Homo sapiens: one gene and its partners. The protein of the gene in region 2 interacts with the protein of the main gene of each other region in a biochemical or structural test. Each region holds a gene or a part of one and is shown on either strand. Other genes may lie near its edges.

What was found.
Region 1: the proteins of FGFR1 (region 2) and FGF8 interact in a biophysical measurement, tested with the Homo sapiens proteins (2 studies listed by BioGRID and IntAct, with this or other methods).
Region 3: the proteins of FGFR1 (region 2) and NCAM1 form a complex in vitro, tested with the Homo sapiens proteins (2 studies listed by BioGRID and IntAct).
Region 4: the proteins of FGFR1 (region 2) and FGF4 form a complex in vitro, tested with the Homo sapiens proteins (2 studies listed by BioGRID and IntAct, with this or other methods).

The regions. Positions count from the first base shown.
Region 1 is NC_000010.11:101,773,110-101,779,986, reverse strand, and holds the start of FGF8 (fibroblast growth factor 8 isoform F precursor), read left to right. Parts: upstream 1-3,872; 5' UTR 3,873-4,086; coding exon 4,087-4,118; intron 4,119-4,210; coding exon 4,211-4,247; intron 4,248-4,770; coding exon 4,771-4,857; intron 4,858-5,074; coding exon 5,075-5,255; intron 5,256-6,877. UniProt on the Homo sapiens protein: Plays an important role in the regulation of embryonic development, cell proliferation, cell differentiation and cell migration. Required for normal brain, eye, ear and limb development during embryogenesis.
Region 2 is NC_000008.11:38,416,628-38,423,648, reverse strand, and holds part of FGFR1 (fibroblast growth factor receptor 1 isoform 1 precursor), read left to right. Parts: intron 1-1,707; coding exon 1,708-1,852; intron 1,853-3,913; coding exon 3,914-4,116; intron 4,117-5,275; coding exon 5,276-5,421; intron 5,422-5,657; coding exon 5,658-5,779; intron 5,780-6,232; coding exon 6,233-6,343; intron 6,344-7,021. UniProt on the Homo sapiens protein: Tyrosine-protein kinase that acts as a cell-surface receptor for fibroblast growth factors and plays an essential role in the regulation of embryonic development, cell proliferation, differentiation and migration.
Region 3 is NC_000011.10:112,964,406-112,971,426, reverse strand, and holds part of NCAM1 (neural cell adhesion molecule 1 isoform 2 precursor), read right to left. Parts: intron 1-7,021.
Region 4 is NC_000011.10:69,772,335-69,780,244, forward strand, and holds the start of FGF4 (fibroblast growth factor 4 precursor), read right to left. Parts: upstream 3,008-7,910; 5' UTR 2,751-3,007; coding exon 2,411-2,750; intron 1,794-2,410; coding exon 1,690-1,793; intron 1,152-1,689; coding exon 975-1,151; 3' UTR 1-974. UniProt on the Homo sapiens protein: Plays an important role in the regulation of embryonic development, cell proliferation, and cell differentiation. Required for normal limb and cardiac valve development during embryogenesis.

The DNA of each region.
Region 1 (6,877 bases), on a different chromosome or scaffold from region 2:
GGGCCGGGGCCTCCGAGTCCCGCCACTGCTCTGGGCGGCCGAATCTTGGGCGGAAGGCGGGGGAATGCCACTGAGGCTTGCATGCATGCGTGCATACGTTCATTCATTCATTCGAACGACTTGAGTTGGAGTGGGGAAGTCTGGCTGTGGCCCTCACTCCTCTTTCCCTTCCTCTTCTTGGCCCCAGCCTCCAAAGTCCTCGGCACGTGCTTGGCAGGAGGAGCGGGAGACTGGCTGAGTCCTCTCTCCTGGGAGGCCTCCCTAGCTGACCCATCTACCCCCTGCGCGGCTCCGCCCCAATATTTACCCCACCCACCCCCCGCGATGCCACTGATCGCTCCTTGCATTTCTCGCCGGTTTTCCGGGTAGGTCTCCCGGTGGGCGCGGGCCTGCGCCGAGCACGCTCCTGCCCGCAGTGGGGGCCCAATCCACATCAGCCTCTCGGCCCAAGAGTTTCTCGGCCGGTTGGGGCGCCCCGCGGACACAGCTGGGCAAGGTTTATTCCTCTCTCCTCGCCCCAGCCTCTCCTCGAGCCCTCTTCTTTGCCCTTCAGCGCACAGTAGGAGCGCTGCCGGCTCACTGTGGCCTCAGACCCCTGGGGGATGAAGGCATACGCCGGGGTTTGCCGACTGCTGGAGGAAGGGCAGGCTTCTATTTGGGGGCCGAGGGAGACGACTCCCAGACAGTGGCCGAAGTGCTTAACGTAGTCTCGGCGATTTGCATTTGAACGGTCGGCAGTGAGTCCGCGGCGCTTTGAACGCCCGGCGCAGGAAGCGCGCGTCGGAGCGAGCTGCGGTCTCCGGCGGGTGTGGATTGGAGGGGCCGGGGGATGGGCTGGGATCGAGGGGTGCGTTTGGAAATAGGCTGAAGTAGTGTGTCTGGGTGCAGGCGAGGGCGTGTCTGCGGAGATGGGCCGTTTGTGTTGGCGAGGAGTGTGTGTTTGTGTTTGCAGGCGAGGGAGTTTGTGTCTGTGCGTGTGTGTGTTTGTGTTTGCGGAGTGTGGGGGCGGCCAGGAAAGGTGGCCGGGCTGTCACTCAGCGATCAGGTTGACAGGCGCTCCCTCATCTGGGCCAGGGAGCTCTGATTGCAGATTCGAGGAAACAAAATAGCAATTGTAATTACCGGGCTTTGATAAGATAAAGGAGGGAGGGAGCTGGCCGGGAGGCGGGCGAGCCAGCAAGGGAGGGAGCGGCCTGCGGGGGCCCGGCGGGACATTTGCATCTGTCAGTCACGGGGCGTGCCAGGGCAGAGCCAGGTGCTTGCTCCCGGGGTGTCCCCATCTGCTCCTCTCCCCCAGAGAAACGGACTTTTGGGGAGATGAGAATTTCAACGAACTAGGTGAGGGTCCGCTTCTCAGGAGGGTCTCCAAATCCAAATGTAAAGGAATCCTGGTCCAGCACAGGCTCCCTGGCAGAGGCTGGGACAGGACTGAAACTTGACCTCGGACCCTTCAGATCCCAGGACGCCCATCTTCTCTGGGGCAGAGGAAGAAGGGTGGCTGAAGACCATTGAGGGTCAACCCAGGGCCCTCAGAATCTTCTGGGGGTTCCACAGCTGGAGCTGAATGCTGGTCTCAGCCAGGGGCTCTGCCCCTACCCCCATTCCAGGGAGGGGCAGGTACCCAGAGTGGCTCTGGCTGTGACCCCAGGACCATGCAAACACTGTTGGATGGGCGGGTCACCCTCACCCCTGCCTGGGGCCTACTCCCTGCTCTGCTTATCTCACTGATGTTCAGAGAGTCCATGGTGGGAGAAAGCCCATTTCTTACAGGAAGTGCCTGCTCTCCATCTCTCCATTCAATCATTTGTTCATCGACATACGCAACTAAACATGCTTGAGGGCCTACTGTGTACAAGGATGAGGGTAAGACCACAAGCAAACAGACATAACCTTTGCCCACTTGAAGCAGTGCAGAGAGGGAAACAGACACTCAATGAATTGTGACTCAGGCCTTACACAGAACACAGGGAAGGCAAGGGCTGGCCTGGGCTGTGGCCACTTGTGTCCACCTGACTTGTCTCCGCCTGATGGACCCACCTCCCCATGGGCTTTAGAGGAGACAGTGCCTGCCAAGCCTGTGGCAGATACAAGTGCTCACTAACTGGTGGTGTTCCTGGTGATAATCTGTTGGGAGGAGGTGAAGGCAGGTCTTCCTGGGGAAGTTGCAAATAGGCTGAAGTCTACAGGCTCAGCCACTTCCCCCATCATTCATTCATTCATTCATTCAACGAACTCTTAATTGCAGAACAGCTCTGCCCAGCCTTGTGCCACGAGCTGTGATTTCTGAGCTCATAAGACATGGTCCTTGTGGGCAAGGTCTGTGTGGGCAAGAGCCCACTGAACAGACTCCTGGAGGAGGATGGCAAGTGTGCTCTGGAAGTCTACTTCTCTGAGGAGGGATAAGATCTTGGAACGCACCCTCTAACTGTTTTCCCATCTCTCCATTGCTCAGTGTTTGCATTTATGGCTGGGAGTTGGAAAGATGGGGCACAGGGAAAGGTGGGACACAGAGCAGGGAGGGAGGCAGGGCCTGGCTGTGCTGCTGGACTAGGGCTGCCGCTAATTTTGGCCTAATGGCTTCCTGGGACCACACCAAACCCTCCAGCCCTACCCCCAGGGGAATGGAGGGTCACTGGGGAAGGGGAGGTTGTAAGTGAAGACAGCAGTCTGGTAGGGCATCACCTGCTCCTCACAAGGCACCTGTCCCAGAGCATCTCTGTCCACCCAGGCTGCTCCCACAGAAGCAGCATGGGGGCTCAGGGTTTCCAGAAACCTCAGGGGGGAAGCCACAAGGTGGGGGGCTAGGAAAGGCTTAGACAAGTGCCTACCTTCTCCTATGCCCCAAGCCCAGCTGACCAGCCCCTGCCTAGAATACAGTAGGTGTGTAAATACCTGTGAAATGAAAAACGAGTGGGGCTTTGAGGGGGAAAGGGCTGGGTGGCCTGGATGGAAGTCCCTTCCCCCAGTAAAAGCTACTGAGAGTTTTTTTGCCCCTGCTGCCTGCTGAGGTACGGGGACAGTGGGTCCTGCCAGGGACCTCCGGACTCTCTCTTCCACACAGGTGGCTCGGGGTGCTCCTCAAGCTTCAGGCTAGTGTGTGTGTGTGTGTGTGTGTGTGTGTGTGTGTGTGTGGTGAGGGGCACAGGGGAAGGGGTGATAGTGATAATGGGATGGGGGGAGGGGGAGGCATTTCTGGCTCCCAGGGCCTCCTCGGGAGAGTGAAGGAGACTGGAGAGACCGACAGGACGGGGCACGCGGCCGAAACAGGGGAGCGGGGTCCGGGTGGCACCGGCACGCACTGCGCGAGGGCCGGGTGCGCAGCCATTCGCTGCATGGTTAGCGGCCGCTCCCAGGGGCCCGGCGGGACACACAGTAGGTGGCTCGGAGACCACTGCGTAGCCGGCGGCGGAAGCGGCTGGGCCCGGAGGCGGAGACCCAGACCCGCCAGACTCGGGCGCTCCAGGCGGTCGGGGAAGCCCAGGCTCGGGGTCTCCCGGCCCGCAGAGTTTGCAGCCCTAGGCGCCCCCATCCCCGCGCGTCCGGGACCGGGGAGCGCGCGAGGGGACAGGCCGGGGATAGGGGGAGGCGCCCAGACCGGCCGCCCCCGCCCCTCCCGCGGGTCCCCAGACCCCTCCCCTAGCCCAGACCCTCAATCCCGAACCCGTCGGCCGCCCCTCCCCGGCCGCCCCGCCCCCGCCCCGGGCTGCATCCAGGCCCCAGTTCCCAGCCGGGGGCTGCGGGCTCCCGCCGCCCGCCCCGCGCTCCCCCCTCGCGCCCGGTGCGGCGCCCCCCGCCCCCACCCCTCCCCGCCCTCCCACCTCCCCACCCACCCCGCCAGCCCGTGACCCTCCCGCCCGCTCCGGCTCCCGAGCAGCCAGCGGCCACCGGCTCCGGCAGCGGCGCACAGCGATTCGGTGCGGCGCGGCGAGCACGACGTTCCACGGGACCCGCGGAGCCGCGTCGTGATCGCCGCCGGCCTCCCGCACCCGCACCCTCTCCGCTCGCGCCCTGCTCAGCGCGTCCTCCCGCGGCGGCCCGCGGGACGGCGTGACCCGCCGGGCTCTCGGTGCCCCGGGGCCGCGCGCCATGGGCAGCCCCCGCTCCGCGCTGAGCTGCCTGTGAGTACCGCGCCGCCCTGCCCCGCCACCCGCCCCCCGCGCCCCTCGCCTCACCCGCGCCTCTCTCTCCCGCCCGCTTTTGTCTCCCACAGGCTGTTGCACTTGCTGGTCCTCTGCCTCCAAGCCCAGGTGAGGAGGGGTGCGCGGAGGCGGGGGCCGGGCGCGCCGGTGTGAGACCCGGGTGGGCAGCGCCGGTCGGGGGCACCGGGACTGACTCTGCGGCCGGCGCGGGAGGGCTGAGGGCACCTTAGAAACCCAGCCCCGAGCCACCCCGAGGAGGGAGCTGAGGCACAGAGAGGTAGCACCCCTCCTGAGGTCACACAGCGAGTGAGTGGCCAGGATAGAAACGAAGGTCTCGGAGCCCAGCACTGTCCCCCATGCATCCTCGCCGGCTGGGGGCATAGGGAACACCCAGCCGCCGAGGAAGGGGGCAGCCGCGGCCAGGGGATGGATGTTCGATGCCAGGGGAAGCCGGGTGACTGCAGCAGAGACCCTCTCAGCGCCCCTCGGGGGAGGCTTGTGGCCGATTTGGCCCAATGATCGGGTGCCCAGGTTCCCTGCACTCTCAACATTTGCTCCGTAAATTTGTCTTTATAAATGTCAGGGGTCGGGGAGGGCTGCCTCCCTACTTAAAAGCGCCCTGCTCCTCTAGGAAGGCCCGGGCAGGGGCCCTGCGCTGGGCAGGGAGCTCGCTTCCCTGTTCCGGGCTGGCCGGGAGCCCCAGGGTGTCTCCCAACAGGTGGGTCCAGCTTCTCCCTGGGGCTCGTTCATCCTGGGCTGGGTCTGCCCGACTTGCGTGGGTGGGGGATGGTGGCCTGGGCTGGCATGTTGGGGGAACCCCCAGCACCTGCTGGCGGCTTGGGGCAGTGAGGGGGACGCAGGGTGATGGGGCCACTCGGGCCCCTGGGCGGAGTAGCATTATAATGGTGTATTGTGTATTTTTCAATTTCCTAAAGGTAACTGTTCAGTCCTCACCTAATTTTACACAGCATGTGAGGGAGCAGAGCCTGGTGACGGATCAGCTCAGCCGCCGCCTCATCCGGACCTACCAACTCTACAGCCGCACCAGCGGGAAGCACGTGCAGGTCCTGGCCAACAAGCGCATCAACGCCATGGCAGAGGACGGCGACCCCTTCGGTAAGGCGCGCTGAAGGTAGCTTGTGGGATGCGCGGCGCCTGGACCACCAGTCCCAACTGCACTGGCCGGGGGCCTGCAGGGTCCCCAGCTCAGAAGGGAAGGAGTTAAGGCAGAAAGGTGTCTTGAGGGTCAGCTGGGGAAGAGAGGGCTAGGGAAGGGGCCTCGGGGAGTACTTGGCCACAGGTGCCCCCTTCCCTGCCCAGCAAATGAATGAATCTAGGAATCTCCCTTTACACCTCCCCCCTTCATACACTCCTCCCCAGCTGCAGGTGGAGGCAGGGGGTTCAGGGGGAGGGGGCCTAGGTTTAAGGCAAGCGCTTGAAAGAGGATATGTCGCCAGGGCCCACAAAAGGAGAGTGGGAAAGAGAAGGGAGAGAAATCCCCTCAACTCTCCCAGTTGGAAAAGGAGGTTGCTGGGAACCCTTAAATACTTTAATCGGATGGGTCAATTTACACGTGGAAACTGGGCTTGGAAGGGGGCTCTCCCTGCTCCATTCCCTGGGGAACCCAGGCGGCTGGGGCAGGGCTCCCGGCTCCCTGTGGGGTGGCAAGTGCGGAGAGCTACTGCCGGCAGAGAGGCTGAGGACTGATTGATTTCTAAAACATTCAATATTCCTGCCTTGAAACGGGGCCAATTTCCAGAGTCCTGGATGTACCAAGAGAAAAGCAAGCCCTCTGGGCGGCTGGTGTTGTTTTTAGAGAGCGATTATTGTGAGTTTAAAAACCTTTAAATAATGACCACGTTAAACAAGCATGAAAGGAGAGGGGAAGACTCTATTAAAATGTAATAAAAAGGTGAGGCATTTTAAGAGCTAAGAAGAAAAATGAAGAATGATATAAAACAGAAAAAGAACGAGCTTTTTTTCAGATGTGGAGTTTGAAAGGAGTTGCAAGTCTGTAAATGTTAAAAAAGAGGTTCAAGATTGTTCTCTCTGAATCTCTGGAGAGACCCCTGCGTCTGGCAGAGCGATTAAAACTCTTCTTACTTTCACCTTTTTTAACATTTCCTGAATACTTTCTCCTCTTCTTGAGCCAGTTTGGGGGATCGAGTATGTCTCGCTGCATTTTTTCTGCATCGACGTAGCTGACTTCCCTTCAAAGCTGGAGGAGACATAATTTTCCTGGGATAAATCTGTCACTGGGGTGGAAGAATAGGTTTGAAAATGTTAAGCTTTCCAAAAGCCCGGTCGGGAGAGCTGCCGTAAACTGCGGCCCCAGCTCCCCAGATCGGAGCAGATTCAACCGACATGGGAGAGAGCGGGCTTTCTGGGGTGGGGGTGGGGGCGGCCTGCCTGGTGGCCGAGCTCCCCTACTGGGCTGGCAGAGCAGGCCTACCATCCCTTTGTCCCTCCAAATTAGCTGCTTGCTGCCCTTCTCAGCTTCTAAGGAGAGGAGACGAATGCCTGGCTCTTCCAGGGTTTGCTCTGTCAGAGCAAATGGCCCAGCATCCTTGGATTTCGGGGAGGGAAGCAGAAGTCAAGCTGGTGTGGGGGAATTCATCTTCAGACATCAGAGGAAGCCTGATGTCCACTTCTCTCCGTGGCCATATAAGAGGTTTCCCGCCTTCCCTAGTCCCTGCCCCACAGCAGGATAGGAGCTGGAGGCCCTAAGAACAGAGGCT
Region 2 (7,021 bases):
GACTTTTGAAGTCCACTTGTTCTGTACTTGTAAAAGGGAAAGAAGGCCGGGCGCAGTGGCTCACGCCTGTAATCCCAGCACTTTAGATCACTTGAGGTCAGGAGTTTGAGACCAGCCCGGCCAACATGGTGAAACCCCATCTCTACTAAAAATACAAAAATTAGCTGTGCATAGTGGTTGGCACCTGTAGTCCCAGCTACTCAGGAGGCTGAGGCAAGCTAACTGCTTGAACCCAGAAGGCAGAGGTTGCAGTGAGCTGAGATCACGCCACTGCACTCCAGCCTGGGTGACAGAGTGAGTGAGACTCTGCGTTAAAAAAAAAAAAAAAAAAAAAAACTAAAAGGGAAAGGTAATAAATCTCACTTAACATCTCCCTTCGCTCCCTGGGCCTGCCTGAAAGTTACACGGGAGCAACGTGCGTGGCCACATCTCAGCTTTGCCCAACTGACTGGTGTGTCGTTGGTTTGTTCCAGCATTCGGGGATTAATAGCTCGGATGCGGAGGTGCTGACCCTGTTCAATGTGACAGAGGCCCAGAGCGGGGAGTATGTGTGTAAGGTTTCCAATTATATTGGTGAAGCTAACCAGTCTGCGTGGCTCACTGTCACCAGACCTGTGGCAAAAGGTAATGGGGAGATGGATGGGACCCTGTGCTGGGGATTTGATGTAGGCCCCAAGCTGCTGGGGCAGGCGGGGAAGCCAGTACTGGACTGTCCTTGCCACCCTACTGTATTTCTAGTGCCCAGAGCCATGGAAAAATACCCGGCCTGGGAGGCTGGTTTGGTTTGGTATTGTGTTGGTGTCTGTGGGTTCCCTCTCTGCCTTCTGTGTGTTCCTTGGCTTTGTGTGGATCCATGTGAGGACTCACGGGGACACGGTTTTGCTGTGTTACAAATGGTACTTCAGACTGAAGTTGTGAGTGAGTGGTGATTAAGAGAAGGGGCCATAGGCCAGGCACAGTGGCTCACGCCTGTCATCCCAGCACTTTGGGAGGCTGAGGTGGGAGGATCGCTTGAAGCCAGGAGTTTGAGACCAGCCTGGGCAACATAGCAAGACCCCATCTCTACAAATTAAATAAATTAGCCAAGTATGGTGGCGTGTGCCTGTAGTCCCAGCTAGTCTGAAGGCTGAGGCAGGAGGATTGCCTGAGCTTAGGTCGAGGCTGCAGTGAGCTATGTTTATGCCACTGCACCCCAGCCTGGGTTGACAGAATGGTACCCCATCTCTTAAAAAAGAGAGAGAAGGGGTTAGGCATTCCCTTGCATACTCGCATCTGCTGGCTGTGTATGCACATGTGCGTGTGTGTATGCGTGTGCATGTGTGTGTCTGCAGCCCCCGCCATCCCTCCTGTGTTCACCTTCTGGCTATCTTTACCTGAAACCAAACAGCCCCTGCCCGCCGGCCCCATTTCTCCATGCCGCTCACCGCCCGCATGCTCGGATGGGCCAGTGGCTGCCAGCATCTGGTGAAGGGTCGTAACCAGCCATCGTCTTCTCAGGTCTGCCGGAGTTCTTCCCTCAGGGTCTCACCCTCTTCCTCTAACAGGTTTTGCTGCCTGGTGGTTTTCGTTTGTTCCTTGTTGCAAAGAAGATGTCAGGGAGCATTTCTTCCTCTAGTCCCCCTTCTTTCTGTCTCCTTCCCTTGCTCTGCGTCTCTTAGAGGTCTCATGTCCTGTGCTTGTCCATTTTGCTTCCGTTGTCTCTTCTAGACTGCTGGAGTTAATACCACCGACAAAGAGATGGAGGTGCTTCACTTAAGAAATGTCTCCTTTGAGGACGCAGGGGAGTATACGTGCTTGGCGGGTAACTCTATCGGACTCTCCCATCACTCTGCATGGTTGACCGTTCTGGAAGGTACACACTGTAACTTCTCCTCTCGATGTCCTGCCCTCGCCACGGGCACGGGGGGAGCATGCATTTCCAGGCTTGGGGAGACACAGAGGCAGGAGAGCTGGAAGAATGGGCTCCTGCCTGCCTGGTGCCACATCCTGCCCCAGCTTTGAGGGCTGAATCCTCTCAGCTCAGAGAAGAGCTTCCCTAGTTTTGCAGGCGCACGGAGGCCTCCCACCCGTACACCTGCCTCTGCTCTCCCCCTGGCCATTGCAATGCATGCCCGGGATCTGGGTTTACCCTGCAGCCCGACTCCTCCAGGGCAGGCTCCTTCCGTCCTTGGGTCCAGCAGCCTCCCCCCTCCGCTGGGTACTGAGCATCTGAAAAGTCTCAGATAGGGCCCTACACCTCTTCTCCCTTCTCAAGTGCTCAGCCCAGGGGTGGGGCTTGCTGCTTGCAAAGAGCAGCCCACCCTCCTGTACTGCCATCCTATTGCCTTTGAAGAAGGAGGTCAGCCTGGACAGGTGAACTGAGTTGCCTTCAGAAAGGCCTGTCTCAGGCAGCCGCAGCAGGCTTCACGATGTCCATGTATCCTGTTTGCCTGCTGCCGTCTCTCCTCTCCCAAGAGGGGAGGTCTGCGTGTTGAGCCAGGGAGGAAGGAGCCTGCAGCCTGCTCAGGGTGGTGGCTGGTGACTGCGGGGCCAGGGCTTGCTGCTGTCTCTCGGAATGTCCTGCATGTGGGTCTGGCTGTTCCTGCTGGCACTGCCCTCTTCTCTCTCCCCTCCTTTCCCACTCTGCCCTGCTTGCCCGTCAGGGTCTCCGGATGCCCCTGCTGGAGGCAGAGAAGCGTTCTGTTTTTATCATCGTCCCTGTCTTGGTCCTGTCCGTGCTCCCCATGTGCTCCCAATCAGTTGTCTTCGTTCCTCAACATCAGGGAAAGAAAAAACAGCAACACTTCTCCCTGTCATCAGCTCTGCTGTCTCCTTGTCAGGCCTTGGGACGTTCTCTGGGCTCAGTCTAGGGTCGTGCCTCATGCCTCATGCCTCTCTGGGAAGGTTCCCAGGGGCGCCGCCTCCATGGTTGGCTGGTGGGTTTTAAAGGGGAAGGTTGGGAGGAGGCCTGTGGAAGGAGGAGGGCCGTCCACACCCGTGGGGCAAAGCGTGTTCCATGAAACCAGTGCTGTGCGTGCTGGGATGAAAGCCTCCCAGCCTCTCGTGCTGAAGGGAAAGGTGGACCGAACTGGCTTAGCTGCTGTGGCAATGGGGTGGGGGGTGAGTCCTAATCAGAAGGTGGGAGAAGAGAATAACAAAATGGAACTCCGCCCCCTGCCGCCACATTTCCTTAAGTTTTAGGAGTTGGGGCCTATGAGTAGAATTTGAAAGAACTACCAAAAAAGCTTATTTTTGGAAATTAAGTCAGCTTTGCCTGTGGTTTGGCTAGGAATAAATATTTACCTGTGTGCCCCTACAGAGATGACACAGACCCAAAGTGGGACATTGAGCAAGGCACAGGCTGGTTCCCCTCCTGTCCTCTGTCCTCATTCTGTGAGTGCCACCATCACCAGGTACTGTGGCCTGCAGAAATAAACGAGGCACCAACCCTGCCCTCAGGGACCCCGTGTCTTCTTAGGGACAGAGGACTCAGAAACATCTGTGTCCCCGCATGTTAAGTGCATGCACACAGTGCTGAGGCTTTGCAGAGAAGGGCCATGGCTCCCTGAGGAGACCAAGAAAGGCACATAGAAGTGACTTCTCAGCTGGCCCTTGCAGGATCCCTGGGTGCCTGTACCTCTCCAGTCCAGCTGAGCAAGGAGGCTCAGGAATTAATGAAGATGGGGCTTGTGTAGCACGATGGTTCTAGGCCATCCCTTTTCCATGGCTCAAGTCCATTGAAGGCAGCCTCCAAAATCAGGGGGTTGCCTGATCCTCCTAGTGCCACAATCCCAGTCCTAGCTAGAACTTGCCATGGTTCTTCTCCCTAAAAGTTCCCAGGGGACAGGAGACAGGTGTTGCTTTTCTAATGGAGCGGGACCTCGCATGGACGGGGCCCTCCAAGCCTGCTAACACCCTGTTCGCACTGACTCAGCCCTGGAAGAGAGGCCGGCAGTGATGACCTCGCCCCTGTACCTGGAGATCATCATCTATTGCACAGGGGCCTTCCTCATCTCCTGCATGGTGGGGTCGGTCATCGTCTACAAGATGAAGAGTGGTACCAAGAAGAGTGACTTCCACAGCCAGATGGCTGTGCACAAGCTGGCCAAGAGCATCCCTCTGCGCAGACAGGTAACAGAAAGTAGATGGGGGATTTGCACACTCAGCACCACCTCTCTCTCTGGGCCTCTAATGCCCTGCCCTCTCCATTGTCCCTAATTTATAGCTTTGGGCCTTATTTTCTGGCTTCTGGGCAAGGCACAGTGGAATATCATGAACTAAGTGCTCTAGAGTCTGTTTCAAGCTAGTGTAGCCCGTGAATTTCCTGCACCCTCCATATCACACTGCAAGTCCTCCGGACTCCTGGGACATGGATTGGGAGGAAGTCCTATTTGGACAGAATGTGCAGCCAATAGCATGAATTTGAACTGTCCCCAAGGGCTGCTTAGAAGTGCAGAGATGCAGGGTAGAGAAGAGAACTGTTTGTATTAGTCCATTTTCACACTGCTGAGAAAGACATACCCAAGACCGGGCAATTTACAAAAGAAAGAGGTTTAATGGACTCACAGTTCCACGTGGCTGGGGAGGCCTCACAATTGCAGAAGGCAAAAGGCACGTCTCACATGGCGGCAGACGAGAAGAGAGCTTGTACAGGGAAACTCCCCTTTATAAAATCATCAGATCTCGTGAGATTTATTCACTATCACAAGAACAGCACAGGGAAGACCTGCCCCCATGAGTCAATGACCTCCTACCAGGTCCCTCCCATAACACGTGGGAATTCAAGATGAGATTTGGGTGGGGACACAGCCAAACCATCTCAGCCATACCATACCCTTGTCCCCTGTGTGCCCACCCTTCCCCACGGGAGGAAATGGTACAGATGGCACAGGTGTGTGCAAGAATGACCGTTCCCTCAGAAGCCTGTGCTCATTCTGGAAGGTGCTTTGGGAGTTAGGAATCCATAAGCTAAGGCAAAGTATTTGCAAAGAGTCAGGAGAACAGAGTTGTTACTGCAATGATCAGTTATAAAATGTCAAGCTGGAAGAGGTGCATTTGGTCTGCTTATTTTAAAGGTGAGTGAAGTCCAGAAAGGCCAGCTTGTGGCAGAAATAGGTCAGTCCTAGAAGTTGGGCCTCCTGGCCTACCATGGTCTTTGGACCACTCTGTGTTGAGGAAAGAACATCAGATACACAGACATGTGCCTCTGCCATTGTTGGGAAGCCCTGACTAAGAATGGGAAGGAGTCACCCCGTCCCCCCTCCTTGCTCTAGGGTGACCCCACTCTTCCTTGCAGGTGTCTGCTGACTCCAGTGCATCCATGAACTCTGGGGTTCTTCTGGTTCGGCCATCACGGCTCTCCTCCAGTGGGACTCCCATGCTAGCAGGGGTCTCTGAGTATGAGCTTCCCGAAGACCCTCGCTGGGAGCTGCCTCGGGACAGGTAATAATACTTTGACTCCCAACTTTTTGAAGGCATTCCTTGCTTGCTATTCTAGTGGTGGAAGGTGTGTATACTAACACCTTCTGGGCGGTGAAGGTTCATGAAATGCCTGCAGAAACATTCATTCCACTTTCTGCTCGCAGTTGGGTGAAATACAGAGAGGTGGAGATGGGGTGCCTCTCAAGGTTTGAACTTCACCAGCCCCAACTTATGCCACTCTCTGTTTCCCCCGAAAGACTGGTCTTAGGCAAACCCCTGGGAGAGGGCTGCTTTGGGCAGGTGGTGTTGGCAGAGGCTATCGGGCTGGACAAGGACAAACCCAACCGTGTGACCAAAGTGGCTGTGAAGATGTTGAAGTGTAAGTGATGCTTCTGTCCTTGCAAAGAAAATCTTGTCCCATTCCAAGCAAACAGCAGGCCTCGGGCCCAGCAGAACAGCTTCTCTGGTGCCTTTGCTGCCCACACCTGCTCCGCTGCCTGCTTGGGGTTACCTGGGAGTGGAGGGGGTGTTCTGCACCTTGAGATTGTTCTATGACGTCACTCTGTTCCTTGGCGTCAACCTGGGCTGTGGTCAGGTGTTTATCCTGGATCCATCGCTTGCAGGCTTTCCTCACCACATCCCTGCCCACTCACTACCACCTATTGCAACAACGGCTCCCATGAGAGGGAAGAGAAAACAAGTTTGGATGAAGTGGGGAGGAGAGAATCAAGTCCCAGGGAAAAGCAGCCCCTCGACACATACCCCACTCCCTTAGCCTTTATCCTGCCCTCCTCCCTTCCCAAGTAAATGAGTCTCAACGTGTTCTTTAAAGCGGACGCAACAGAGAAAGACTTGTCAGACCTGATCTCAGAAATGGAGATGATGAAGATGATCGGGAAGCATAAGAATATCATCAACCTGCTGGGGGCCTGCACGCAGGATGGTGGGTGCCGGCCAGACTGGCTTTCCCTGCCCAGCGGGGAGAAGATCTGAGCTGGGGTATCAGTCCCAAGGCCTCTCTCAGCCACAGCTAGGGAAGGGGGTTAAGAGAGGCTGCTTTGGCAGAGGTTTAAAATGTGTTATCTCGGGATCTGGGCTCCGCTCATTGGTGTTCATTCAGGAATACAGATACCTAGATTCACACACGTGGTGTGTTAACAGAGGCAGCTGAGTAATTATGGTCTAAGAGCGCTCAGGCTGGGTGCAGTGGCTCATGCCTGTAATCCCAGCAATTTGGGAGGCCGAGGCAGGAAGATCACTTGAGATCAGGAGTTCGAGACCAGTCTGGTCAAAATGGTGAAACCCCATCTCTACTAAAAAATACAAAAGTTAGCCAGGCATGGTCACGCATGCCTATAATCCCAGCTACTCAGGAGGCTGACGCATAAGACTTGCTTGAACCCGGGAGGTGGAGGTTGCAGTGAGCCAAGATCACGCCATTGTACTCCAGCTTGGGAGATACTCCCGCTGTCTCAAAAATAAAATAAATAAATAGGCCAGGCACAGTGGCTCACGCCTGTAATCCCAGCACCTTGGGAGGGTGAGGCGGGTGGATCACTTGAGGTCAGGAGTTGGAGACCAGCCTGGCCAACAGGTGAAACCCCATCTCTACTAAAAATAC
Region 3 (7,021 bases), on a different chromosome or scaffold from region 2:
CTATTCTATACCTTCTGACGTACTCTTACTCCACTACAGACTGCTTCACCCTCTCTTTGATCCCACATTCTTCCTTCGATGACAGTAGCTTCCAAACTCTTTTGACCTGAGCCAAAAGAATGTATTTTCCATTACAACCAAGTTACATATTACACAGAGAGAGAGAGAGAGAGACAGAGACAGAGAGAGAGAGAGAGAGAAATTGAAGTACTCAAAGCAGTACTTACCCTTATATAAAACACACTCTCTTTTTCCACTTCTTCCCTCCTTCTCTCCCTCCTTCCTCCCCTTTTTCCTTCCTCTCTTACTTCTTTCTTAATATATATGGAAGCCCGTTAAACAGATTTCATCATCCATAGTTTGAAAAATACTGACCTACAAGTTAAGGTATTAGGAGGCCCAAACTTTTTCTAAAACCTAACCTGTCTCTTAATTTCTCCATCATATTTACAGTACCATGATTATTTAATTTCCTCGAGTTTGTAACTTCAAAGATCTTTCTCCCTCTCAGTCATCTACCATTTGGGATCTATCATCTACCCTTGGTTGCTTTGTTATTTCTAACATCTCAGCTATGCCCCCTTTATCCTTATCCAAAATCATTACAAGTGTATCTTTCCAAAATTTCCTGCTTTAGAAAATATATCATAGTTGGGTTTCTTTAATCAAACAAGCACCTCTAGCAGTACATAAAATTTGATTTTTATTTTTCAGCAACATGTCTACTAATAAAATGTATAGCTGTGAAATATTTCATTTACAATGCATTTCCCATATATTATCTTATTTTGTTCTTATATTCGATTGCGGAAGTTACAGTTCAAAGAGGTTACATAACTGATATAAATTCACTTGGCTAGTTAGTAGCAGAGCAACTTCTTGAACCCAGATCTTTCGAATCTAAGCCCAATGGTGTCCTTTCCCCGCATACAGGTGTTCCTACTGATTAAGCAAGATACTTTCATTGGACTTCACTAGCCTCCCTTCTCCTAGTATCATCTAGTTGATGTTTCATACAGCAATAAAAATCCCTTCGTTAGCCCTTCATTTTGTCCGACCACCATAGTGGATGCTATATAAAACCAGAATTCCCTTTTAGTGCTGCAATGAACTATATGAATTTGTTCCTACTTAACTCTCTGCTAATTCCCAGCTAGTCCCAAACATAGAGCCTGAGGCAGCACACGCTCAGTTGCTATTGTTAACTATCCTCTTAAACATATATATATATTTTTAATTTCTCTGTCATCTCCAGCAGGACTCCTCTCCTTTGTCTGACATTTAAGATTTAAATATGGCTTGCCCCAAGTTCCAGCCTTTAACTGCTCTTCAATAGCAATTCTTTGGCCAGATCCACCTCATCCTATAGGAAAACAGGCCCTCTCTCCCTATTTACCTTCATATCTGTGGAGGTCCAGGTCAGTTCTAGCTTTTCTATACCTCTTTTTTCCCCCAGACATTAAAACTAATAGACATGATTTTTGCCTCTCAATTTTCCCAGTTTTTACCTGCCTGCTTCATTCGGGCACTTACTGATATAATATCTTTCATGATTTCTTCGCAGCTTGAACTAAGCAAAAGTGCTTCCTCTCCAACCACCTGAAAGGGTCAGTATAGTAACCTTAAATTTATTTTGTTTTTCCTCTAAGCCTCTAGCACAGAACTTTGCACATCATATTCAGAGTACTGTACACCTTTTTAAACAAACATTTCAAATAAAATATCTGACCACAGGGAACTTTTTTAAAGCACATAATGAGTACATACTTTATATCTGCTTTACATATGTGGTTTTATTTCAGCTCACCAAGACCCACAAGGGAAGTGTCATTAACCCCATTTTACAGATGGGGAAACAGGCTCAGAACGACAGCAACTTGCAGAATGGCAGGACGGTTCCTTCAGACCACAGCTCTGAATAGTGCCCTTCCTCCCCATCACTCCTCCCACACTTTGGTCAGACTCAGTCCAGAAGCCACAGGAATTCCTGTTTGCTTGGCATGTATTCAGATGCTATATATATTCAAATTATCCTTGCCTTAGAAAAGGATAAAATTCAGACAACGAACGTAAGTTGCAGTCCCAGCTCCACCTGCCTAAGTCATTTAACCTTTCTCAGTCTCAGTTTCCATTTAAAGACTTACAATCTGGACTTGCAGAATTTTTTTTTCTCCTTATCTCTGGCTACTCCTCCCCACTACTCTCACACTGTTCCCCATGTACAACCAGATTCAGATCTCAACCACTGCTCAGGGTGTCTGCTCTGCCCAGATCACCCCTTCTTCCTGCTCCATCTAATGAAAGCAATTCTTCCCCAAGCCCAGCTCGAGGGAGTCCCAGGCAGAATTAATTGCTTCCTTTCTTGTGGCCCAACAGCATTTACTTCATGCCTCTGTTTATAAGTATAGTATGTCTGTCTCCCCTCCTTCCAGGTGGTAAGCTCTAAAGGCAGATGTATTATTTTCCTGGACTTCATAACGTGAAACTCCACACGATTCCTGAAGCTATCTGACCTTCTCCAGACTTCACAAAGGTTTGTTGAGTTAAGGAATTCAGGAATGTTTGTTGTAATTCAATGTTTGTTGAATTAAGTAGTCAATCAACCATGCCCTAAAATGAGAATACCATCTGTTCTTCCTATTTCACAGTTGTTTAAATGTTACATCTTCACCTCCCCAACCACCCAATCCCCCTTGATAATCTCTCATCCTGGGTTTTTCTTAGACTTGAATCTGAATATGTAATTATAAATGTATGTGTTACTTTTTAATGTCTATATTTCTCTGTACTACTAGACTGGAAACTCCATGAAAACAGGGACGATGTACGTTTAGTTCACCGCTGTATTCCCAGCACCCAGCACAGAGCACGTACTCAGTCAATATTTACTAAATAATTAGTGTGAAGATTAAGCACATATCAAAGTGTTTTGTAAACCATAACGTGATGATTAAGATATAATTATTGGTATTATATATCCAGTTTATCTCCTTTTAGATAGCTAAAACAAAATCTTCAGTCTCCTCTCCAATATCATATGCCTTTAGCTGGCAAAACTACTTCTTGCCCTGCCAATCGGGCACTTACATCTCACTCATTTGAATAATAATAGCAATTGCTTTATTTTCTTCTAGTTAGTAATTTACAAGAATATCGGCAGTGACAAATATCAAATCAGCTCAGATCTCATTTAAGATCTTCTGTCAAATAAAAGTGAAATACTTCTTTCTAAAAATGACTTTGACTTCAATATATGATTCTAATCTTCAAAGCACTACACATACAACCTCTATGAGGTCCACGTTTAATAAACTGGAACGATTAGTTTATATTCCCAAGCAAGTGGGTCCAAGTGGACCAAAGGATAGTTGCTAAAGAAGGACCAGAAGTTTTCAGGGTTCCTCAACTGCATGGACTCCTTCCAAGGCTCTGGGGGACTGGGACTTGGCAATGTGTTCTCATGGTCATGTATTCAACTAACCTTCGCAAAAGCAAGAAGAGTTTTGTATTTTCCTTAAAGAAGGCCCTCAAAATTATATACCCTTCAGGCCCAACAAGACCTAGATCCACCCTTGTGCTGATGGTTTTCAACCTTATAATCAGGCCATTTTTTTCTCTGAAGTATTCACAACCAACATGGAATTGCAGGCATATTTAGTGACCAATTTTTTAAGCCTAGTTCTAATCTCTGAAGGAGTCCTGTGTATCATAATACCCTTTTTAAAATCCTTCTAAAAAGAGGGCACTATGTCTAAATAATTATTTTTTCCAGATCCATATATATCCTTCTTGCTCACTAATGAACACTGCCTACATGCACTGAAGTCCTAAGATCTCTAAAATATTTATAACTCTAACAAGTAGGCATTACTAATTTTCCGATCTCACGGAAGAGGAAACTGAAACTTGAAGGAGTTAAATCATTTGTCTGAGATCAGACAGCTAGTAAGGGATATGTCTGGGGTTTCAACCCAGGGTTATCTACCTCTCTTAATCTCTAGTCTCTACTACTCCCAAGGTTCCCTGACAGCAGAAATTATGTCATCTCACTCCTTTTAATTCCCCACAGAGCAGATGATAAAAAGCTGGCACTCAATAAACATATTTGATCAACTATTTAAGAGAATACCTAATGTAACACAATCTCAAACAGTGTGACATTACTATGAATATTCTTAAATGATGAGGTAATCAGATACCAAAGGAGGTGATTAATGTACAACAAAAGGCATTTTACACCTTATCTCAGGAATGACGCCAAATAGAAAACGGAAGATCAGCTGTTACCCATGTTTGCAGCTACAAATCAAAAAGTCCTCAGAGTACGAAGTGGAATATAGGTTACATAGAAGCCTTTTAAATCATATCAGCCATGCAATCTTTGAATTCAAGAAAGTGTTACGTATATATGGAAGAAAATAGAATGCATAATGGGTTTATTACAATCTGTTTTTCAAAAGCACACATACACAAGATACACCAAATAGCTTATCCTTTTAGTGCAGTCCTCTTGGAGTCTCCAATTGCTTAGAAGCTAAATTAATACTGCAGGAAAGGAAAAGTGTGTCTACCCAACTGAAAATCCGTTAACTCAGTGGCTGCATGTAGACATGGCCTGAGCATGTTTTAAATGTAACGTATTGAAACTGCCTGAAAGGCCGCCATTTGGCACCCAGGCCAACATCAAAAAGCAATGCTCCTAATGAGCATCTGCAGCTGAGAGACAGTATTTCAACAACATGAAATGAAAAGGCATAATGGCACCACTGCCAACGCCAAATAATTTACATCCCTTTACATCAGCAAATGGTTTTAAGGTTTGGCCCCAAGAGTTAATAACAAAAGAGGCTAGAGGTAACAGGACTATGACCTTCAGATTGACTTCTGTATTCTATTACCCTACAGTAAGTAGTAAGCATATCTACCTGTATTGTTAAAAATAGTTTCACTACAATGTTTTCGAATAGTGAAAACTCTGGAGCTCATAGAAACCTAATCATTAGGATTCAGAGGTCCTTGGACATTTCCTCCTTCCTAAAAGACCATCTCTTACAGCATTGCTCAGAGTCACTGAGTATATTATGAAAAGTAAAAAATTTTCTTCTTCGAATTTTACTTAGAATTCTTTCTTTTTAACCAAAGGAATTTTCACCTTAGTGACTTTTATTAAAAGCTCAAATGACTTCATTTTATACAGCCACGTGATTAATGTTTTCAATTTTGTGTAATTTGTAACCCAGTTTTAAGATCAGTAAAATGCTCCCTGTAATGTGCTGCCATTTCTTTTAAAGTTCCAGACATTCCTTAGTCTATATGTTATAACTGCTAAACTGAAAAATGATCAATTATGGAATTTACATTAAAATATTTATCTTGACACCAGAAAACATGTGTGTGCTCAAAAAAGCAATGCTGAACTGGTGCAGGAGAGCCTTTATAAGATGTCTTTGTCTCCTCCTAGTCTATGATTCTTCCCGCAGACTGACGGGGGCAGGTGCGATCCCTTCTCTCCCTGGCCTGCCAATTGGTTCTGCTCTCCATCACAAGCTCAAGATCCTAAAAGTGCAACCCGTTCTTTAGCAACAGGTACTCAATCACTTATTTTACACTAAGTCAGAAAGGACTGTCTGTAAAATGTCTTTGGAAGCCTGCCAGTAGTATTGAAGCCACTTTCAGTCTGGAGAGCAGCCACAGTTCTTTAATACTAAAGACAAAATTATGAGAAATTTATCAAACTCATACTTAACAGAGGCTTCATCACCTTGAAAAATTAAGTGGTTGCATCAGAAATTCCAGAGTCCATTATTTAAGCAGTGTAAATTTTACAAAATGCTCTCTATAATTTGAGAAACTGGGTTCTGTAGTGAACAAAAACATGTCTAAAGATTAGCTTTTGAGTGACAAAATGGTGCTGTTTACTTTGAAAGGCAATTAAGACATTGTTCCTTGTGACAGAAAAATACAGATATAGGTTACTTCCATTAAATTACATATTACCTATCTGAGGAATTCAATTAATGATAAATGGATTCCAAACAGAAGCACTGTTCAAAACTTGGAATTTGGGGGTGCTACAGACTAATTTCTCCTTCTTATTGCTGCCTTCAGTAAACACCCACATCCCTTACAAATAGCACACCCACATCATTTTTTTTTCAGTTTTGATGTGGGATTTTTTTTTCTTTGCAATTACTATCTTAATTCTTGAACTATCAAACTCAAGAAACCAGTCACCAGTTAAATCAACATATTCTTAGTTTAATCAATTATCATTGTAAGACTTAGAGGAAACTCCTTTACTAAACAAGAATATGTCCTGCTATTTTCTGGTATTCCATTTTTAAAAAAAAAATCCTAGATAAAGGTATCTGGAAGGAAGTTATCAGGTTCAACAATTTAGGGAAAGAAAGAGGGCGTTCATAAAGCATTAACTTAAGAAAACAGTTAAAGACTAATGGAAGCTTAGCTAGGTTAGCAGATCTTTAAGACCTTTATAGAGGGAATAGTAACTCAAAAACTTACATAAATCATAGCCCACACGTCTACAATGTCTGGATTATATTCCCTGTTTTTAATAACTCTGTTGGATTTAAAACAAATTATCAGTTATTAATATTTCTAAATATGCTAGTATTTATTGAAAGAAAATAATCTTTCTAGGGTTTGGTTAGAGTTGTGAAAGGTTTTCCACATTCTTATATAGCCTTTATTACATTCAGTGAAATTCTGTTTAAAAACACACATTCTCAGTCTTCAAATGAAAATCAACAAAAATATATGGCTCACTATAACTGTGCTCACAGTCAACTTTGTGGAAGCGCACCTTAATTTGCTTAGTGAGAGATATTATATATACTACTTGATTTCAATGTTAGCTTTTGTAAAGTAGCTCTTTGTTCTTAACCGATGGTATCTTGTTAGAAACCCAGTCCTATCCATTCCTTGACTCTTGCAAGTTTAACTGGCAGAAGACTGCAAAATTATCAAGTAAACATGTGACTTAACCATTCCAGATCGTTCA
Region 4 (7,910 bases), on a different chromosome or scaffold from region 2:
TACAATTACAAGGACATTTCACCTAAAAATCGTAGCTAGTTCTAGCCCAAAGCTCCCTAAACACAGGGAAGCCCGTTTTGGGGGTGGGGCGGGGGGTTCGATGGTTTGTTTTCAAAAACATATTCTATCACACCATCAGAAGCATCTGCCATCACAAATTATTTTTCATCACTAGGGTTTTGTTTGTGATTGCAAATACACTATCTTGTCCATTTCTAGCCTTCCAGTGGGATATTGATTCCTCTCCATGGAATTTATGAAAGAGCTTCGTCTTTTCCCCAATAGTCACAGCGATGGGGGCTGTCGCTGATCCAAAAAAGGCAAACAGGAGTTTATAAAGTTGTCCAAGGGTCTCTCCCATCTGGTAGATCGAGGAAGATTGACTACAGGAAAGTTCAAAGGTCAGTCTTGGCAGATCTAAAAACAGAGTGGCAGCGAGGACTTCAACACCGCACTTTCTGTACCCGAAGTAAACCGATATGTCCCGATTAATAGCAACAGGGCACAAAGGGAGTGGGCCTCTGAGGATGCTAGCCGAGAGCCAAGCCTGGGAGCTCCCTGAACTGGCTGCCCAAGCCTCAGGCGGGCCTTTCCAGACAGAGATGCTCCACGCCATACTACAGGGGATGACATCGGAATCCAATGTCACCTTTTTTTAAAACACAGAATAGCAGCACACTCGTGACAACTTTTGACAAGTTAAAGAAATCCAATGGTAAGATTCTCCACTGTTGCACCAGAAAAGTCAGAGTTGGTTTTTTGTTTTGTCTTTTTTTCCCCCCAGAAAATTAAAAAACACACCCGCAGAACTATAAATAATTTGGTGGCAATATATACACATTTAAATAATTAATTTAAATATCTTACACCTACTCTTGCATTAAACTCTTCATCCGAAGAAAGTGCACCAAGGTGACCCTCGGCACTGCCCTCCCAGGGGCTTCCCGAGGCTGAGGCAAGGGTCCTCTGGAGGGTCACAGCCTGGGGAGGAAGTGGGTGACCTTCATGGTGGGCGACACTCGGTTCCCCTTCTTGGTCTTCCCATTCTTGCTCAGGGCGATGAACATGCCGGGGTACTTGTAGGACTCGTAGGCGTTGTAGTTGTTGGGAAGGAGAATCTCCTTGAACGTGCACTCATCGGTGAAGAAGGGCTGCAGCAAAGCAGGGCAGTGTCAGGGCTGGGGCACCTCTTGGGCAAGGTACCCAGCCTGAAGCCAGGGGTCAGAACCCCCTTCTGTCCCACCCCCCACCCTGGGCTGAGATGTCTCTGCTGAGCAGTTAAGGTGTCAAGACCCACACAGGGTGAGAAGGGGACATGGCCAGCCCACAACAGCTGGTGCTCTCACCACCTGCCCTGCACCTAGCAGCCAGAGAATTCATTCCCTCCGTGTCCAGCCTCAAGCCCGCAGTTCCAACACTGAGACCTACCCCTCTGGACTAGAGAAGGGAAGGGCTCTCAATAGCGCCCTTTCCTCGGTCTGGGAGGGGCCCACTCAGGGATGGCAGGAACCTCATTGTTCCTGCCTTGGGGCTGCTTCCTTTGTCTGGGGAGGCCTGCCGGTCCCGTGACCTGGTGACCCTGCCACCCCTCCAAGACCCAGGCACAGGTGGGGCTGGAGAAGCCACGAGCCTGCTAGCCATGTCCGCTGTTCCCAACTAGGTGCCTAGCCAGACCCCTGCGGTACTCACCGAGCCATAGAGCTTGCCCTTGCTGCTCATGGCCACGAAGAACCGGCTGGCCACGCCGAAGATGCTCACCACGCCCCGCTCCACGGGCGAGAGCTCCAGCAGGCCTGGGGGCGGGGCGCAGGTCATTGCGGGGCAGGTGATCCCTGGCCCACTCCGCCCCTCGGCTTGTTCGCCTCCGGGGACCCTATTTCTGGGGTGGGGTTGGGGATAAAGGGCCAGGGTTCCCGGCGCAGCCGCCCCCAAGGGCCTCCAGAGCCCAAGCTGCCCTCTAGGGCCTCCGGAGCCCAAGCCTGCGCTAGCTCAGATTAGCTTGCCTGTGTAGGGGACCCCCGGCGGCCGCACCCAGTCCCGGACCTTCAGACGCGAGCCCGACCCCAGCGGTTCCCCAGCCTGGGCCAGGCCGGGGCGCGTGTCTCGGGCCCCCTGTGGCTGCACCGCGCGCCCTGTGCCCACGGGCGAAGGCGCTGGAATTCGGCGCTCGGAGCCCGAGTTTCTGAAGGCGGGAGGCGGCGCCCGACCTCAGGGGTTGCGCTGGGCTGCCGGAGCCAAGAGTGTCTGCGTCCCCAGCCCCGCGTCAGAAGGGACCGGAGCCCGAGTCCGCCCCGGTTCCCGGGGCCCCCGAGCAGGTGCCCGCCGAGGGTCTCAGAGTGTGACTGAGCGGGTTGGCCCGGCGGCCGTTGCCCCCCGCCCCCGCCCCTTCGCGCCTGGCCGCGCCACTCACTGTCGCGGGTGTCCGCGTGCGCGCCGCCGATGCGGCCGTCGGGGAGCGCCTGGAGGTGGAAGCCGATGCCCACGTTGCAGTAGAGCCGCCGCAGCCGCTTGATGCCCAGCAGGTAGTCGCCGGCGCCGCTCTGGACGGCCGCCTCCTTGGGCTGCGCTGCCACCGGCAGGCGCGCCAACGAGAGCGCCACCAGGCTCTCCCAGCGGCGCTCCAGCTCGGCCTCCAGCGTGCCGTTGGGTGCAGTGGGTGCGGCGGCGCCCCCTCGGCCCGCCCAGGGCGCCAGCAAGGCCAGCAGGACCGCCGGGAGCAGCGCTACCGCGGCCGTCCCGGGCCCCGACATCCCGGCCCGAGGGCCGTGCGTCGGTCAGGCGGTCAGTGCGCCCGGGAAGCTGGGGGGCAGAGCTGCGCCTGTGGCGTCCCGCGGGAGCGCACGGCCGACCTCGGGCAGGAGTGCGCAACCGAGGAGGTGCGGGAGGCAAGCGACGGGGCCCCCGGGCGCCGGGCTCTACCCCGGCTGCATGGAGCGGCGAGCCGGGCGGAAAGCGCGCGGCTGGAGCTGGGACTCTGAGGAGCAGTGCGCGCCTCCCTGAGCGCCAGGCCCGCCCGAGGCCGAGCCGCTATATATATAGCCCGGCGCCCCCTCCTACTCGCCCGCTCCCGCGGGGGGCCGTTCGCGTTCTCCTGGGCGCCCGGGGCGCTGTGGCGTTCGCGGCTGGTCGCAGGCCGCCTGCCAATCAGGGCCGGGGGAAGGGAGGAGGCTGGGGACTAGCGCCGCGAGTGCCACCTGGAGGGACCCCGGCCCCCACCCTTGGCTCCGCCCGGCCCACGGACCTGTTCGTCCCGCCCCTTGGCGGCTCCTACACTTCTGCTTTTCAGCCAGTTTTGCCTCTTGCACTTTGTCCCTGCCTGTCCCCGTCCCCGTCTCCCTCTCTGCTCCGGCCGCCTTGGCGCAGCCCTAACTCGGGCATCCGAAGCTCCTAGTGGGCGCAGAAGCCAGCGGCTGCTGCCTGCCCTTCGCCTTTCGGAGGCTCACGGGAACTTGGTTCCTTTGCTGGGGCCTTGAGGACCGGCCTGGGAAGGAGGGGTGGATAAGAGCAGTAAGCGACACCGGGGCCTGGCTGGGCAAGGGAGGACCCTTTGGCTACAGGCGGGAGGGAGGCCACCCCCACCCCCTAGGTCTTGGCCCCACAGGCTTGGCGCGTTTCTGGGCTGGAGTTCTGAATACCTGGTGGAGGTCCACCTGAGCCAAAGGGCAAGGTGGCAGAGATGCACCCAGGGAGGCCTGGTCCTGCACCCCCTACACACACACCCTTCCGTGAAAGGACAGGTAGCAGGGCATAGGGCCAGAGGGGATATTCAGCATCCCCTGCTCCTTTGATTCCACAGCAGAAATATCCATGTACCATAGCCAGAGCCCTCAATCTAGCAGGGACCCAGGCCAGGCCTCTGGAAGCCTCCCCTCTCTCACTCATGGTTCTACCTCCCACTGTGCCCATTATGGCCTGATGGGGACTGTCCTAGCTAGATGCAGGCCCACCTAGGTGTGAAAACCCCTGTTCTTTGTGGTCCCTGAGGAGCCTGCCTGGCCCTTCCTGCAGGCCCGCCTAGCCACAGCTGCAGGGGGCTTGGTGCCTACCCCATCTCTCATACCACCAGCACCTGTGACCAGAGATGTCCCCAGGCCACCGCAGCCTCCTCCACCTCCACCGCATCCCCACAGGGAGATTCCTGGGACCCCTTCAGAACCCTGCTGGGGCTTATTCGTGCCCCTGGAGGGGACCTGGGAGGCTTGAGGGCTCTTCTCTGAGGTGCAGAAAGGGGGGCACTTGGGGGTCATCAAGTGGCTTTGGCAGGACCGGAACCTCAGCTCCGCACCCCTTGAGAGGATCTTTGTTCCTCCTTGGGCCTGCAGCCTGCTTGGGCAGCGCCACCCAGACCTGGACCTTCCTGGGCTGCAGCTCACAGCTTCGAGATGCAACCCGGCTGCCTCTGGGTCCTGGGGTCCCCCAGATGAGCCTGCAGATCTGGTGCCAAATAGACATCGTTGGCCAGGGTGCAGGGTGCAGGGTGCAGGGGACCTAGAACCCATCCCTCACTTGCTGTGTTGTCTTTCCATCTCTAGGTCCCTGACTCCCCATTTGCAAAATGACATGGGAGGTGGGCTTTCCTCCCTCAGCCTGGGGCCAACCGAACACACCCTCTGGGGAAGTGAGACCCAGGCCTGGAGACCCACCTGTGCCAGCTGACCTGAGCAGAGGGACTCTGATGTCTTCCCCCGGCTTTTGATAGGATGAGGCTCCTTTCTTCCCAGGACTCCCACAGCAAGCTCAATTTAGGGCTTCCCAAGGACCCCTCCCTGTCTCTCCTATTTGCTGTGAGTTCAGCAAAGGACGCTGCAGGCAGCTGATATATCTCCCAGAACTGCAGGCCCACCCACACAGGATAGGTGCTTGTGGTGACTGGGGACTGACAGCCAGCAGGGCTTTTGGGAGCTGGGAATTCCCAGCAGAACTGATCTGGAATCTGGCTTCCACTTTGCTCCGGGTGCTCCCTGAGCACACTCTCAACCTCCGCAGGCCCTGGCCTCCTCAGCTGTGCAATGGAGGCAACAAAAGCACAGGTAAGGAAGAATTGCGGATGAAGGATGCACCAGGAAGCACTCACTTATCTGCATCTGACCCCTTTCCGTGCCCCTGGCCCTTGACCTGGCTTCCCACCTGCTTCCTTTCTGCTCCTGTGTTCCCGCCATGCTGACCGCGTCATCTCTCCCCTTCCCACTGGATGACCCCCGGCCCCAGATCTTCCTGCCAATGACTTATCCCATTCAGGTTTGCCTGAATGGAGAAGCCACTCCATTGGAGTAGCCACTCGGGGATGCCTTCTGGATCCCCTGCCCAGTCCTTCTGGTTGGAGCTTCTTTGAGCTCTTAAGAGAACCTTCTGCACTTGTTAGCTGACCCTCCACCGCATTTAGATTGTCATCTCCATGGAGCAAGCCCGGATTTGTGTTGTTGCCAGTTGTACCTCCAGTGCTGGGCACATAGTAGGTGCTCAATAGCTGTTTGTGAGTAAATGGCTGGCTAGGTACACTAGGAGCTCATCCATCAGCAATCCTCACTGCAAGCTGCCCTGCCCAATCTGCCACTGTGCCCCGGGGCAGACAAACAGAGGTACCTGCAAAGGCCTCAGGCAGAGCTGCCCCTATGGGAAGGTCTGCATTGCCTTTTTTTTTCTTTATGTGAAAGAAATAGTTGGACCAAGGTGACTAAATCTTTTCCAGATCTGGTTACTTCTCAGCAGAGAGACAAGGGGACCTATATATAATTTTTTTTTTTTTTTTGAGATAGTATCTTGCTCCATTGCCCAGGCTAAAGTGCAGTGGCTCTATCATAGCTCTACAGCCTCAAACTTCCAGGCTTAAGCAATCCTCCAGCCTCAGTCTCCTGAGTAGCTGGGACTACACACTCAGCTAATTTTTTGTTTTCTTTTTTAGTAGAGACGAGGTCTCGCTGTATTGCCCGGGCTGGACTCAAACTTTTGACCTCAAGCAATCCTCCCGCCTCAGCCTCCCAAAGTGCTGGGATTACAGGCATGAGCCACTGCACCTGGCCAGGTGATCTAGAAACAGGACCCTCACTTAGCTTGGACCCAAAGCCCTTCTGCCATGCTTTACCCCAGGACGCCCGCTTTGCCAAGTCCTGGGGTTCGAGGAAGGCTTGGGGCCATGTTGGGCTTCCGGTTGGGTTCAAGTTTAGGCTGTCTCCCTGTTAGTTGTATAACCTTACGCTATTTCACTTCTTAGCATTCTCAGTTTCCCCATCTGTAAAATGGGCATGAGCTGATGTCGGCCTTAGCAAGACAGTGCCTGACCTCAGGAAGAGGCTGAGCAAAGTGAGCTGTTTAGACTGCAAGCCCCTTGGGGGTGGTTCAAACTGGGTCTGATTAACAGTAAATGCTGGGAATTTGTGAAATAAACAAAGCCATGTCATTATCGGGTGGAAGTCTCCCTGTACGTCATCAGCCACTGGAGGGGTAATAAATTGAGGGAGAGGAGCAAAGGCCCAGAAAGCCTCCTAACAGTGACCTTTTTCGACCTCCAAAAAAAAAAAAACAACAATGTAGGATCTTCATGTGAATGGTCCCGTCTCCCGTGAAGGAGTGAAGAGGCTTCTCAGAGCCACCAGCTCAGGTGTTAGCTGTTAAGAACTTACTTGGCTTAATAGTAATAATAATAAAAAAGAAAGTGCTGCATAATAGTCCACTTATAGTCCTCAGGGCAAAATGACTGAGCTCAGCCCGGGGCAAGGGCCCAGGCTGTGTAAACTTTGTAAATAGCTCAACTGCTTTCTCAATTCAACTTCCCTTTCTTGGCTTCAGCAAGACACCCTCACAATGATGTCTTTCTGCAAAAGTCCAGGAGGATGATAAGGCCGGTGGGATAGACTGGTCTACACTGAGCCGAAGCACCCCAAAGCAAGTGGCATGTTTTTCTTTAGGACCTTCAGAATAAGGGGAGATTGAGCCAATTTTTTTTTTTAGCTTTTTAAAAAATGGTGTTAATTGGGTGCGGTGGCTCACCCCTGTAATCCCAGCACTTTGGGAGGCCGAGGCAGGCAGATCACTTGAGGTCAGGAGTTCGAGACCAGCCTGGCCAACATTGTGAAACCCCATTTCTACTAAAAATACAAAATTAGCTGGGCGTAGTGGTGCATGCCTGTAATCCCAGCTACTCAGGAGGCTGAGGCAGGAGAATCGCTTGAACCTGGGAGGTGGAGGTTGCAGTGAGCTGAGATCGCGCCAGTGCACTCCAGCCTGGGCGCTACAGAGCGAGTCTCCGTCTCAAAAAAGAAAAAAAAAGGTGGTAAAATATACATGATACATAACATAAAATTGATGTTAACCTATTTTTTTTTTGAGGTGGAGTCTTGCTCTGTCACCCAGGCTGGAGTGCAGTGGCGCGATCGTGGCTCACTGCAAGCTCCGCCTCCCAGGTTCACGCCATTCTCCTGCCTCAGCCTCCTGAGTAGCTGGGACTACAAGCGCCCGCCACCACGCCCGGCTAATTTTTTTTTTTTTTTTGTATTTTTAGTAGAGATGGGGTTTTACCGTGTTAGCCAGGATGGTCTCGGTCTCCTGACCTCGTGATCCACCCACCTCGGCCTCCCAAAGTGCTAGGATTACAGGCATGAGCCACCGTGTCTGGCCTGATGTTAACTATTTTTTAAAAGACTTTTTTCAGAGCAGTTTTAAGTTCACAGCAAAATGGAGAGGAAGGTACAGAGAGTTCCCTTACACCCTCTGTCCCCACACACTCACAGCCTCTCTCATTTTAGCCATTGTTAAGTGCACGGGTAAGTGGCATTAAGGACACTCACATTCTAGTGCAACCATCACCACCATCCATCTCCAGATGGTTTTCATCTTCCCAAACTGAAACTCCCTGCCCATTAAACACTTGCTCCCCATTCGGCTCCCCCAGCCCCGGCACCCACCATCTTCGC